Linked DNA regions of Homo sapiens. The protein of the gene in region 1 interacts with the protein of each later gene in a biochemical or structural test. Each region holds a gene or a part of one and is shown on either strand. Other genes may lie near its edges.

The links.
Region 2: the proteins of GNAI2 (region 1) and LTB4R form a complex in vitro, tested with the Homo sapiens proteins (one study listed by BioGRID).
Region 3: the proteins of GNAI2 (region 1) and GPSM2 form a complex in vitro, tested with the Homo sapiens proteins (one study listed by BioGRID).

What each region holds. Positions count from the first base shown.
Region 1 is NC_000003.12:50,246,172-50,249,916, reverse strand, and holds part of GNAI2 (guanine nucleotide-binding protein G(i) subunit alpha-2), read right to left. Parts: intron 3,008-3,745; exon of another isoform or gene 2,849-3,007; coding exon of another isoform or gene 2,842-2,848; intron 1-2,841. UniProt on the Homo sapiens protein: Guanine nucleotide-binding proteins (G proteins) are involved as modulators or transducers in various transmembrane signaling systems.
Region 2 is NC_000014.9:24,314,498-24,318,242, reverse strand, and holds the end of LTB4R (leukotriene B4 receptor 1), read right to left. Parts: exon of another isoform or gene 3,223-3,745; intron 2,607-3,222; 5' UTR 2,592-2,606; coding exon 1,533-2,591; 3' UTR 207-1,532; downstream 1-206. UniProt on the Homo sapiens protein: Receptor for extracellular ATP > UTP and ADP. The activity of this receptor is mediated by G proteins which activate a phosphatidylinositol-calcium second messenger system.
Region 3 is NC_000001.11:108,874,861-108,878,605, reverse strand, and holds the start of GPSM2 (G-protein-signaling modulator 2), read right to left. Parts: upstream 1,622-3,745; 5' UTR 1,378-1,621; intron 1,076-1,377; exon of another isoform or gene 832-1,075; intron 1-831. UniProt on the Homo sapiens protein: Plays an important role in mitotic spindle pole organization via its interaction with NUMA1. Required for cortical dynein-dynactin complex recruitment during metaphase. Plays a role in metaphase spindle orientation.

The DNA.
Region 1 (3,745 bases):
GGCAGCAGGCATTGGGACATGGTGGCAGGCCTTGCCAAGGCCCCTGCCCACCTTCAGCCCCCTACGCCAGAGACCACCCTGAGGGGAAAGGCCTGAGCCCTCCTCACAAATGCCATCAGGCGCCTGCAATCACTGAGCTTCTGACTGTCCCAGGCCTGCTTTCCAGGATGAGGGGAGGGGATCTGGGGAGATGGGGAGTGACAGCTAGTTGGGTATGAAGTTTATTTTTGAGGGTGGTGATTATGTTCTGGAATTAGATAGCAGTGATGGTTGCACAATCTTGTGGACATACAAATGTGCAGGCCCTGGGAAGGCTGGGGCGCTGTGGCTGGGGCAGCAATCCCCTCTATTGCTTTAGCCCCTGGGCACTACAGGGGCCGGGCCCAGTATCTTCACTGGGGTGTGTACCGGGATATATACCAGCACCACTCCCTCCCCATTGGGCTGTGCATGGCAAAGGGGCAGCCAGGATCTGCATACCAACACTCCTCCACCTGCCAATGAGGACATGGGGAAAGGTCCCAGGAAAGCCTCACAGCGATGCCTGAACACTTAAGGCCCATCCCCCTGGGGCTCAAAGCACCCACTGGGGCAGGGAGGGCAGCAGTGGCTACCTGACTGTCTTCCCCACTGGCTCCTCCAGAGCAGGAGGAAGAACCAGGAGCCAGTCACAGCCAGGATGGGGGGAACTGCAGGAGCAGAGGCCAAGGATGCGAAGTCATGGGTCCCCATGCAGTCCCGAGCCAGGCGAGCTCAGACTCAGCAGGGAAGCTACCCAGGGCATGGGGGACCTGAGGTCTAGGGTGAAAGCTTCCCCATCTTGTGTGACTTCGGGACTCCTGCCCACTTGAGGCATCAGTTTCCCTATCTGGCCACTGAGAGTGAAGAGGGGGTCTGGCCTTTTGCCCACTCTTAGTAGGTGATGTGGGCCGCTTCGTGACCCTGCCCAGGGACGAGGGTGCAAACTTGCTTTGCATCTGATTTTCCTAGCAGCAGCTAGACCTGGTAGACATGAGGTAGGCAGCACAGAGCCAGTCACACTAGGAGCCAGGATATCTGCTCCCTGCCCCAGCCAGGGAGGGCCCACTTCCCTGTCCCCTTCAAGTTTCATTTTCCCCTCCTAAGGCCTCTTAAATGTTAAGAGAACATTCTCTATCCCAAGCAGGGGTCACTGAAAAAAGAGTTCCACTTGACAGGTAAGCAAATCAAGGTCATGGAGCCCCTATCCCTAGACTCAGGCTGGTCTCTTTGTCTTTCCAGCAGCTGTGACTCAGGCGGGAAGTAGTGAGTGGCAGGACAAGGGTGTGGTGCTGGCAGCCAGGCAGGAAGCAGGGGGAACAACGGGACAGAGGCAGGGGCACAGCCCAGGAGCAGCTCCAGCAGAGAAGGGGGACAGGAGCAGAGGTGGGTGGAGCCCCAGGATGGCATCTGGGTGGAATGGGTGGGGTGAAGAGCTCTCGGGCAGCCCACAGGCTAAGTGCCCTGGCAGCTGTGGGGTAGTAGCTTCACTCTCCCCATCTCTGGCTGGGTCCTCTTTCCATCAGGACCTGAGGGATGCCCCCTACCAGATAAGCTGGCAAGAGGCTTATCTGTGAGTTTTGCACACACCCAGCTCCCCTCGCACCTGCCTCTCAGAGGGGTGGCTGAGTCCAGATTTTTTTTTTGAAACACAGTCTCGCTCTGTTGCTCAGGCTGGAGTGCAATAGCATGATCTTGGCTCACTGCAACCTTTGCCTCCCGGTTCAACCTCTGCCTCCCGGTTCAAGCAATTCTCCTGCCTCAGCCTCCCCAGTAGCTGGGACTACAGGCATGTGCCACCACGCCCGGCTAATTTTTGTATTTTTAGTAGAGACAGGGTTTCACCATGTTGGCCAGGCTGGTCTCGAACTCCTGACCTCAAGTGATCCACCTGCTTTGGCCTCCCAAAGTGCTGGGATTACAGGCGTGAGCCACCGCGTCCAGCCTGAGTCCAGATTTCTGCAAAGATGCTGGGTAGGGGAACTGAGGCAATAGAAGGTGGCATGAATCAGCCCCTCCTGCCCGCAGAGGGCCCCACCAAGTGCTCTGTCCCCAGCTGGGTAAGACCAGAGAGGCCTGCAGAGGTTCCCTGGGGTGGCCTTGGCATTCCCACTGAGTCACACCTCTTCCCACCAAGGAAGAAACCTCTGCAGCCTTTGCCCTGTGGCGCAGTTAGGGCCCACAGCAGGTAGGCAGTAATCATAGTGATGTGCTGGGTGGTGGCAGCTGCTCTGCACTAGAACATCTGCTTCCACTTTGGGAGTGCTGAGCCCCAGAGGAGGGAACCGATGAGAGAAGGGAGACAGTACCACTCCACCTGCGTGAACAAGACCAGCAGGGCCCCTGCAGCAGGAGAGACAGGCCCACAGGTCTTGTCACTTGATGCTTAGTCCAGGCCCCAGCATTCAAGTCACAGCATCTGTTCATCTTGGACCCTCTAACTCCTTAATAGGCTTTGATCTGCTGGGAGGCTGGGACTTGCTACTATCCTTTCTGGCTTCAGTTTCCCCTGGGCAGAGCTGTCAAGCCTCAAGCAGCCAGCCAGCCTGCCTCCCATTTTCAGATCCTCTCCCAGAAGGAGGTCCAGACTTGCCACAGCCCTGATGTCCACTCTGATCCTTCCTGAGATCCTCAAGAGCTTCAGCTCCTTTCCTGCCCTTTCTCTGGCACCTCATCTGTGAAATGGGACAACGCTGTCTCCTTCTGAGAGATGGGTAAGGATTAAATGCAAAGCTCTTCTCACAGTGTGGGGCACATGTGAGCATTCAGGTAAAAGTTATCACTATTTATCTACCCTTTGAAAGAGTACAGATTTCCCCAAACCTCTCATTTCCTGCAACCTGCAGAGAAGACTGCTGTGGTCATCTCATTTGAAGGAAAGCTTCTGAAGATTTTCAGATAAAGAGCAGATGAAGAGCAATGGACAGCGGCTAACAGGCTGATTCAGAGCTGTGGTGGTTCCCTGCTGGGACTCAGCATAACCTGGGACAGGAGTCAGAGCTACTGGCTCCTCTGTTGGCTTTCCGCTGTGTCGTCACTTCCCTTCAGTATAACCCGGCACTCCTACACAGCTGGGGCCTCCTTCCTGCCCAGGAGCCTCACTGCTGACATTGCTCACTGGCTGCACACACCCAGAAAGCCAGGCACACCTCCCTGGAGAGAACCCCCATACTGGTGGGCTCCGTGGGAACACGTGGGGCCAGGAAGAGCAGCCAGCTGACGTGGCAGGCCCGAGGGCAGAGATTCTCAGAAGCAGCAGCGGCTGGGACCACAGGGTAGACTTGGGCAGCGGCCCAGCTCAAACCCACAACACCAGGCCCGCCCACACTGCCACAACTCCCCAGCCTATCCCAGTGGGATATGGTGGGGCAGGTGGGGGTAGCCCTGAGCCCACCACAAAGGCAGCCCGGACACCACCTCCTTCTCTTATCCCAGGAAGGTGCCACATCTCCAGCTCAGCCTGTGGTTCTCAGATCCCGTGCACCCCCACGTCCCCTGCAGTCCTAGGGACCCATGCCCCGCCACCACCAGGGGGCGCCCGGCAGCCGGAGACACTGTGGAAGGAAGTGGGGGCTGGGCAGCACTGGGGAGCGTTTTGTTTCAGAAAAGCAGCCTCAGCCAGGGGCGACTGGGGAAGGTGTCCCACCCACCAGCCCGTCCCTGGGAAGCCCCCAGCCTGCAGAGACTCGGCACACACAGAAACCATGGCAACGGGAGGGAGGGGCAG
Region 2 (3,745 bases), on another chromosome or scaffold:
ATGCCTGCACACATGCATGCATGTGAGACTAAGCATTTTGAAAGGGAGTGATTTTTTTCACAAGCTCAGGAAGAGAACTCCCTCAGCCTCTCTGCCAACTTGATTATAGTATTTTGTACACCTTGGAAGCATAAAGAATTTAGCCACATGACTCAAAACAAAAATTTGCCCTTTCCTGCCCCCTACTCAAAAATACCGGAAGAATCTCCAGGGAAATGTCATTTGAACTTTATTAATTCGACAAACACTAAATAAGTACCTATTATGTGCTCACCATACAGAATGGGCGAGAGGACTGGGAAATACTCCGTTAGGTCCCTCCCAGTTTCAGCTGCTGTTCTCAAATTGGTGCACCATACCTTCCAGTAAGGATCTGTAGACAGCTTGGGGATCTCCTCTTCTTAGGTCCATCCAACATCCCTTTGCTTCCTTCTGCATCCTTCTGCACAGATGCTGGTATATGGGTCTTGAGATATTGATGACTCATTCTCACTGGCTCATACTTTGGGGTCCATGGGAGTATGTCAAACCTTGACATACTAGATTTGTTGCGGATGTTGCATGTGGATATTTGGTTTCCCTCTCTTACTTGCTCTTTTGTTTTTTTATGAGAAAGATCCAAAAAGTACACTGCTGCCACTGTTGTTGCCATCTTCCTAAAACCTTGTCAGAACAGAGTTGGACCAAGGTTCTCTAAAACAACAGTCATCTCTAGGAAATAATGACTCATCCCTCTCACTTTTGGGAATCTTTGTTTCCTGGGGCCCTCAGCCCCACCCTGTGCCAGGGTGTGTTGTGGAGGTTAGCAGATGCTGATATGCAAAATTCTAAGGGATAAGATCTAATGACTTAGTCCTCAAGTCTGGCCTCTTTGTGAAATGGAGGGAAGGAAGGCATCCCCTAGAACATCTCCTATGGAGAGGACAAAGATTATTGGCAGGAAGTTGGAGTCATTCTAACAAGGAGACTTATCACAGGCTTCAAGGAAGATATTTCACAGCAGTGCTGTTTTCTCAGAAGGTCCCGGGTCACAGAACCTGGAGTGATAAGCCCACATGGGTGGTCTTCCTAGACAAGCTGCTTTAGGAGTCTGTAGACTGCGTTTTGCTAAGTATTATCTGCAGACTATGTACTCGGAATCATCTGGGATGGGGGAAGTCTATGTTTCTTTGTGTCCCTTCCAAAATTGTAAATCATGGGGAACTAAAGGACGTGACTCTCAACTACCGAGAGGGGCCCCACCAGGGCGCCCACGAGCACCCCGATACCCACAGCACATGTACCCCACTCACAAGGTTGACCAAATTTCAGACTTCAGTTTTAATGGTTAAAGCTGCCTGTGGGAGCCAGGCTGGAGCACGCTCTCACTCGGCCCTCACTTTGCTCCACCTCTCCCTCTTCTTCCACTCCACTCCCGCCTCCCACGCTCCCACGCCCTCCACGCCCTCCACGCCCCTGCTCCTCCTCCAGGTACTGAACTGGCTCAGAGCTAGCATTCTGCCAGGAGGAAAGTGCGCCTCCTTCCACCAGGCCTAGTTCAGTTCGTTTAACTTGAGAGGGCTGGAGGCAGTGAGGCTCTCGGAAGGGCCGGGCTCCAGAGCGGCGGGGCCGCTCCTAGCGGTCTGGCCCAGGCTGCCCCCGCGGCGCGTGCTGGACGCCTCGGAGCCCGTGCCCTCCAGCAGCTTGGCGACGAAGCCCACGCCCGCCGAGCGCAGCAGGCCGCCGCCGGCGCACGCGTACAGCACGGGGTTCACGCTGCTGCTCAGGAAGGCGAGTGCGATGAGCACGTTGCGGGCCAGGCTCAGCCGCTTCCCCACGAGCCCTAACCCGGCGGCCTGGCCGGCCAGCGCGCGGCCCGCCTCAGCCAGGTTCACCACGTGGTAGGGCAGCCAGAAGGCGGCGAAGGTCAGGATGATGAGCACCACCAGGCGGCCGGTGCGGCGGCTGCGGCGGAAGCGCCGGGCCTGTAGCCGACGCCCTATGTCCGAGTAGCTGGCCACCACAGCCAGGAAGGGCAGCAGGAAGCCCGTGACAGCCTCGAAGATTAGATGGAAGGCCCGGTGCCCTTCGCTGGGGTACCGCGGGAAGCACAGGCTCATGTTCGTTTTCCAGGGCACTACTGTGCGGTACGCGAGGACGGGTGTGGCCAGCAGAAAGGACAACACCCAGATGCCTGCCAGCACCCGCCGGGCCATCGCCTTGGTGCGTAGCTTCTGGGACACAAAGGGGCGGGCCACCGCCAGTGAGCGGTCTAGACTCATGGCCGTGATAAGCAGGACGCTGGCGTACATGCTGACTCCGCAGACATAGTGACACAGGCGGCAACCAGCCAGTCCAAAACTCCAGGTGCCTTGGGCCAGGAAGTGAAGGAAAAAGGGAGCAGTGAGCAATACGGCCAGGTCGGCCAGGGCCAGGTTCAGCACCATCAGGGCAGTGACAGAGCGCTTCTGCATCCTTTTCAGGATACTCCACACCACAAAGCTGTTGCCGGGAAGCCCCACAGCCAGCGCCACTGACAGCAGGATGATAGCCAGCAGAGAGATGAACTCTACACCTAGTGAGGGGGGTGCTGCAGAAGATGTAGTGTTCATGGCCGTCGGGAGGACCTGGAGAGTGAGGGCGGACACACGCATGAGAGTAGAGGACCAAGGGTTTCCTGACGCCATGGACACACCTAGGCTGAGAACTCTAGTCTATCTCCAGGGTCAGCAGCATCAGAGGTCCCCCTGAAATATACTGCCCCCATCGCTGCAGACTGACAACTTAAAGGGATCTGGTTGAGTACAAAGACTAGTTTCCTAACTGGGTCATGCGGCCCCTTCCTGTCCACAGACCCAATTGCAAAATATACAGTGACCACAGCAGCAGCAGCATTTCCAGACCTTTTCAGTCTCCTCCCCTTAGGAGACCCTAAAGCCCAGAACCAAACAGAGTTCCTACCAATGCTGCACCCCTTGAAAGGCCAGTCTTTTTGCCCCCTGCCAGGCCCTCAGCCCCTCAATCCCATTAACTTTCCCAATCACCTGCCTACTGTCCCCAGAGATGCCCAGGGTCAACCAGGAATAACAGGGAGGGGAGGAGTTTAGTGGACAAGTGACAAGGACAAAGCCTCCCAACTTTTTACGCTGGTCAGGCTTTCTTTGGAGATTCCTTTGCACCTTCTTTCATGGCTGCACACTGTCCCACCACCACCACAACCACGGCCGCTCCCAGGAAACTTACTTACAAGCTTTGGCAGGAACTGGTTGGAAGCTGATGCCAATCCCAGGGTCAGGGCAGGGTGGTGTAGCCTATCCCTGGATCTGTCCCACTGCCAAAGGCCTGGCCCCAGGTCTAGGTGCTGTTTGCTAAATCAGCCAGAGAGGAAGTACCACAGAGCAGAGGACAGGGAAGACGCATCTTCCTGAGGGTGGGGCTGAAACCCCTACCCACTCCCTTCACTAGGAGGGGGGATAGTCTGTTTTCCAGGGCAACCCAGAAGGCAGGAGGACTCCTTAGAGGTGGGGCCAGATGAGAAGAGACCAGGAAGGAGCAGTGAGAGAGGAAAGAGGGGTGTGGGGAGTGAGAAGGCTGGGTGTGGCCTCAAGATGCAGGTCTAGACTGGATAATTGAACAAAGTAGTGAATGGTATCATATAGGAGAAGGAGGTATGGTAGCCAGAGAAGGGAAATGGGCTCAGATTGGAGGCTACAATGCTGATATCTTTTTGTTTTGTTTTGCTTTGTTTTAAGATTAATAGGAAGTG
Region 3 (3,745 bases), on another chromosome or scaffold:
TTAGAAATATTTTATGTTTATGAAAAGGTCATTTTTAAAACTACTATATCTTATCACTGTTTTAATTAGTCTAGTAAGCAAGTCTCAGATCTATATTAAAATATGTTTGTAACACCGAATATCTGATTTAAGAATGTAAGAAAATACAATTAAACTGCTTATCTGGCCAGAGAGGATTTTGGAGACATGCCTCTACAACAACATCACACAACTTTTTACTTTGAAACCGCTCCAATACTTAAATTATAAGTAATAGCCTGGGAAATAGCTTGCGAAAACGACTCCGTGGTAGTTGTAAAGAGAAGTAGGTGTGAGACCACCCCTAATCCCTGAGGCCCCCCTCTCCTTACACACACCATGTCAACCAACAGTGATCTACCCTTTTTAATGTTGTTTATTCACTTCTAAACAATCAACTAAAGCTGCTCCTGAATAGTGAGAACCCAATCAAAAGTGGTATTTATCAGAAGCAATCACACCGGCTATTATCAGGCCAGAAATCTTCGGTACACCCTTCTAAAGTGGCAGCTTGAAAACTCAGCTCTGTTGGTCCTGCTGACTTCCAACACACCCCACGAACGCTCCAATGCAAACCCGATAGAAAGGAAAGCCAAGAACCTACTTCGTTTAATTCTACGGTGTGGTTAAATTATGCATTAAGGCCAATAAAATTTCCATCCTTACTCGTTTTCTTTAACAGAGTTCAAATGCTACTAGTTCAAATGCTCTAACTGGTTACTATTAAAACAAGGAAATTACAGATTTTTTTTTATTCGAAGGTATTCTATAGATTTCAGGAAAGAGTTTTCTTAACGTTTTATGTTTACTTACTCTTTTTGCAGCAACTACCAATTTCTATGGTAAATCGACCAGTTGGTGCCCAAAAGTTCACTAATTTAAGCACGGTCAAGGCAGGTATTTGCCATAAACTGCCTGGTTTAGGTAGGACGCGCCCGACTCCAAGTGATTGCAATCAGCCTCGGAATGAATTCCACGGGGATTCGGGCTTTGATTCACAATTTGTTACTCACATTCAGAGTGGTAAGAAGTCGCTGGACTCTAGTATAGTTTTTATCTTAAAAAAAAAAAAAGACTCAGGAGTGAGGCTCTTAACGCTTTACTCTCATTTGAAGACCTTCCGACAAAAAAGCAGCAACTCCTCAAGCCGAGTTTCTGGTTTCTTGAGCATCGACGCCGCGTCCCCGCAGCGCCCACAGGTCCCGCAAGCCCCCAGCCCGCCTCCTGCCCAAAACAAAGGACGTCACCCCCAGACCTCTGGACACAGAAGCCCCACACGCACGCACACGCACCCCTCCCTGTCACCTCCCTCCGAGAGCCCCTCAAACGCCTCAGAACCCGCGTCGCGGAAGCGCTCACCTCCCGCGGGCGGGCGGGTCCCGGGTACGCGGTGAAGGTGCAGCGGCGGCCGCCTCGGGCGACAGACGGGTGGTCACGGCCCCTCCCCAAGGCAGGGGCACCGCAGGAGGCCGGCGCGCCCCCTGCTCCCGCCCCCGGCAGGTCACGTGGGCCAGAGCTCGTAGCGCCCCTCGCTTTCCCGGAGCGTCCCTCCGCCACCTAGGGGTCCCGCCGCTCCGCCGGTCTCAACACCGCCCTCCTCTGCGCCTGCGCCCCGGCTCCAGGCGCTCTCATTCAAACCGACAACGCCCCGCGTCTTTCGGACCGGCCAATGGCGGGCGGCGCAGCGGGGCGGGGCGGGGCGCTGGTTGCCCCCCTCTTCGCAGTCCTGGGGAACCGTCTGCGTGTCAAGGTGACAGGGGGCTTGGGAGCTTGGTCCTCCTCTGCTCCGGGACGTGTCCTCAACCCTCAGACTGAAGTTTCTTTCCTGTCCTCTTCTTTCTTCTTCAGACACTAAAAAGTAGAGCAATAAATATTGTCTAGAGTTGGCCGGGCGCTGTGACGGACGGCTATAATCCCAGCACTTTGGGAGGCCGAGGCGGGCGGATCACCTGAGGTCGGGAGTTCGAGACCAGCCTGACCAACATGGAGAAACCCCGTCTCTACTAAAAATACAAAATTAGCTGGGAGTGGTGGCGCATGCCTTTAATCCCAGCTACTCAGGAGGCTGAGGCAGGAGAATCGCTTGAATCCGGGAGGCGGAGGTTGCCGTGAGTGGAGATCGCACCATTGCACTCCAGCCTGGGCAACAAGAGCGAAATTCCATCTCAAAAACAAAACAAAACAAACAAACAAAAAACATCGTACAGAGTTCAGATAGAGGCTGGCCTAGATCCCTTTAAAAAAGGAGCGCAAAACCAGCGCCGCCTTTTTGGAAGACTTGGTGCTGCGCTACAGAATGAGTGTCCCAAGCGGCAGATGCGGGATATAGAAGAAAAAGAGGCCTCTGTGGAAGGAACAGAGGGACCGTGTGAAAGTCTGAACAAGGCAGCCTCAGTTCTTGAGGCTGTGCCCAACCCTGGCGTTTCCAGCTGTTGGAAAAGCAAACTTCTGTTGACTACAGAATCGCTGGTTCCCAGGAAAATTGGGTGGCAGTTTTACTCAGTTTCACTCAGTTTCAGCGCCTACATTCTAAAGACACTGGGAAGAATAAGTTTTATTTCCATTCACCTCTCCTCCATGTCAAGGTGACCCCAAAATAGTAGTCACCTTATAGTTTGTTCTTCACAAAATACCGGCCGGGCGCGGTGGTTCACATCTGTAATACCAGCAACTTTGGGAGGCCGAGGCGGGGGGATCACCTGAGTTGGAGACCAGCCTGGTCAAAATGGTGAAACCCCGTCTCTACTAAAAATACAAAAATTAGCCGTGCCTGGTGGTGGGCGCCTGCAATCCCAGCTATTCGGGAGGCTGAGGCAGGAGAATTGCTTGAACCCAGGAGGCGGAGGTTGCAGTGAGCCGAGATCGCGCCACTGCACTCCAGCCTCGGCGACAGAGCGAGACTCCGTCTCAAACAACAACAAAAACCAAAATACCAAGACCAGAGTCTCTCTGGGGTAAAGCATCTGATGAATTTACTTAGATTATTTTTCAAATAGATATTTCTCTTCTGAAATGAAGTTTAAATGTTTCTACAGGGTAAAGGCTATGTTAAAGAAAACTCCGGGTTCAGTATCTCCGTGAATGATGGCCATAACCAGTGATCCAAGCAACATTTCCCATTAGGTGCATGTTATGGCAAATTGCTTAAAGGAACAGCTTTATCATCAAACTAGACCTGGGTTTGAGTTCCAATTCTGCTACTTACTTGCTGATTGACCTTGAATGAGTTATCTTCTTTAGTCTTAGTTTCCCCACCTGTAAAACATAATAAAGCCTCTTCTAATAAGGGTTGCTATGATGCTTCTGTGAGGTAAGGTTGTTAAGTGGTTGACATAGGGCCTGACACATAGAAACTGCTCCATACTTGATACCTATTATCGTTACAACCATCTTTAATATCAGGTTCTTGTAAATAACAATGGAATTGGTTGGCTGTACTGTTTCAGAGGTAGGTATTAATTCCTTCTTAATTATAAATTCTTTTAAAGTATGGATACTGTGAAAGCCACAAAGGAAATTTTATATATATAGAGAGAGAGACAGGACCTCCCTCTGTCACCCAGGCTGGAGATCACTGCACAGCAGCCTCAACCTCCCAGGGCCAAGTGATCCTCCGATCTCACCCCTCCCCTACACCCCAGTAGCTGGGACCACAGGAGCTTGACACTATGTCTGGCTATTTTTATTTTTTCAGTAGAGAAAAGGTCTCACTATGTTGCCCAGGCTG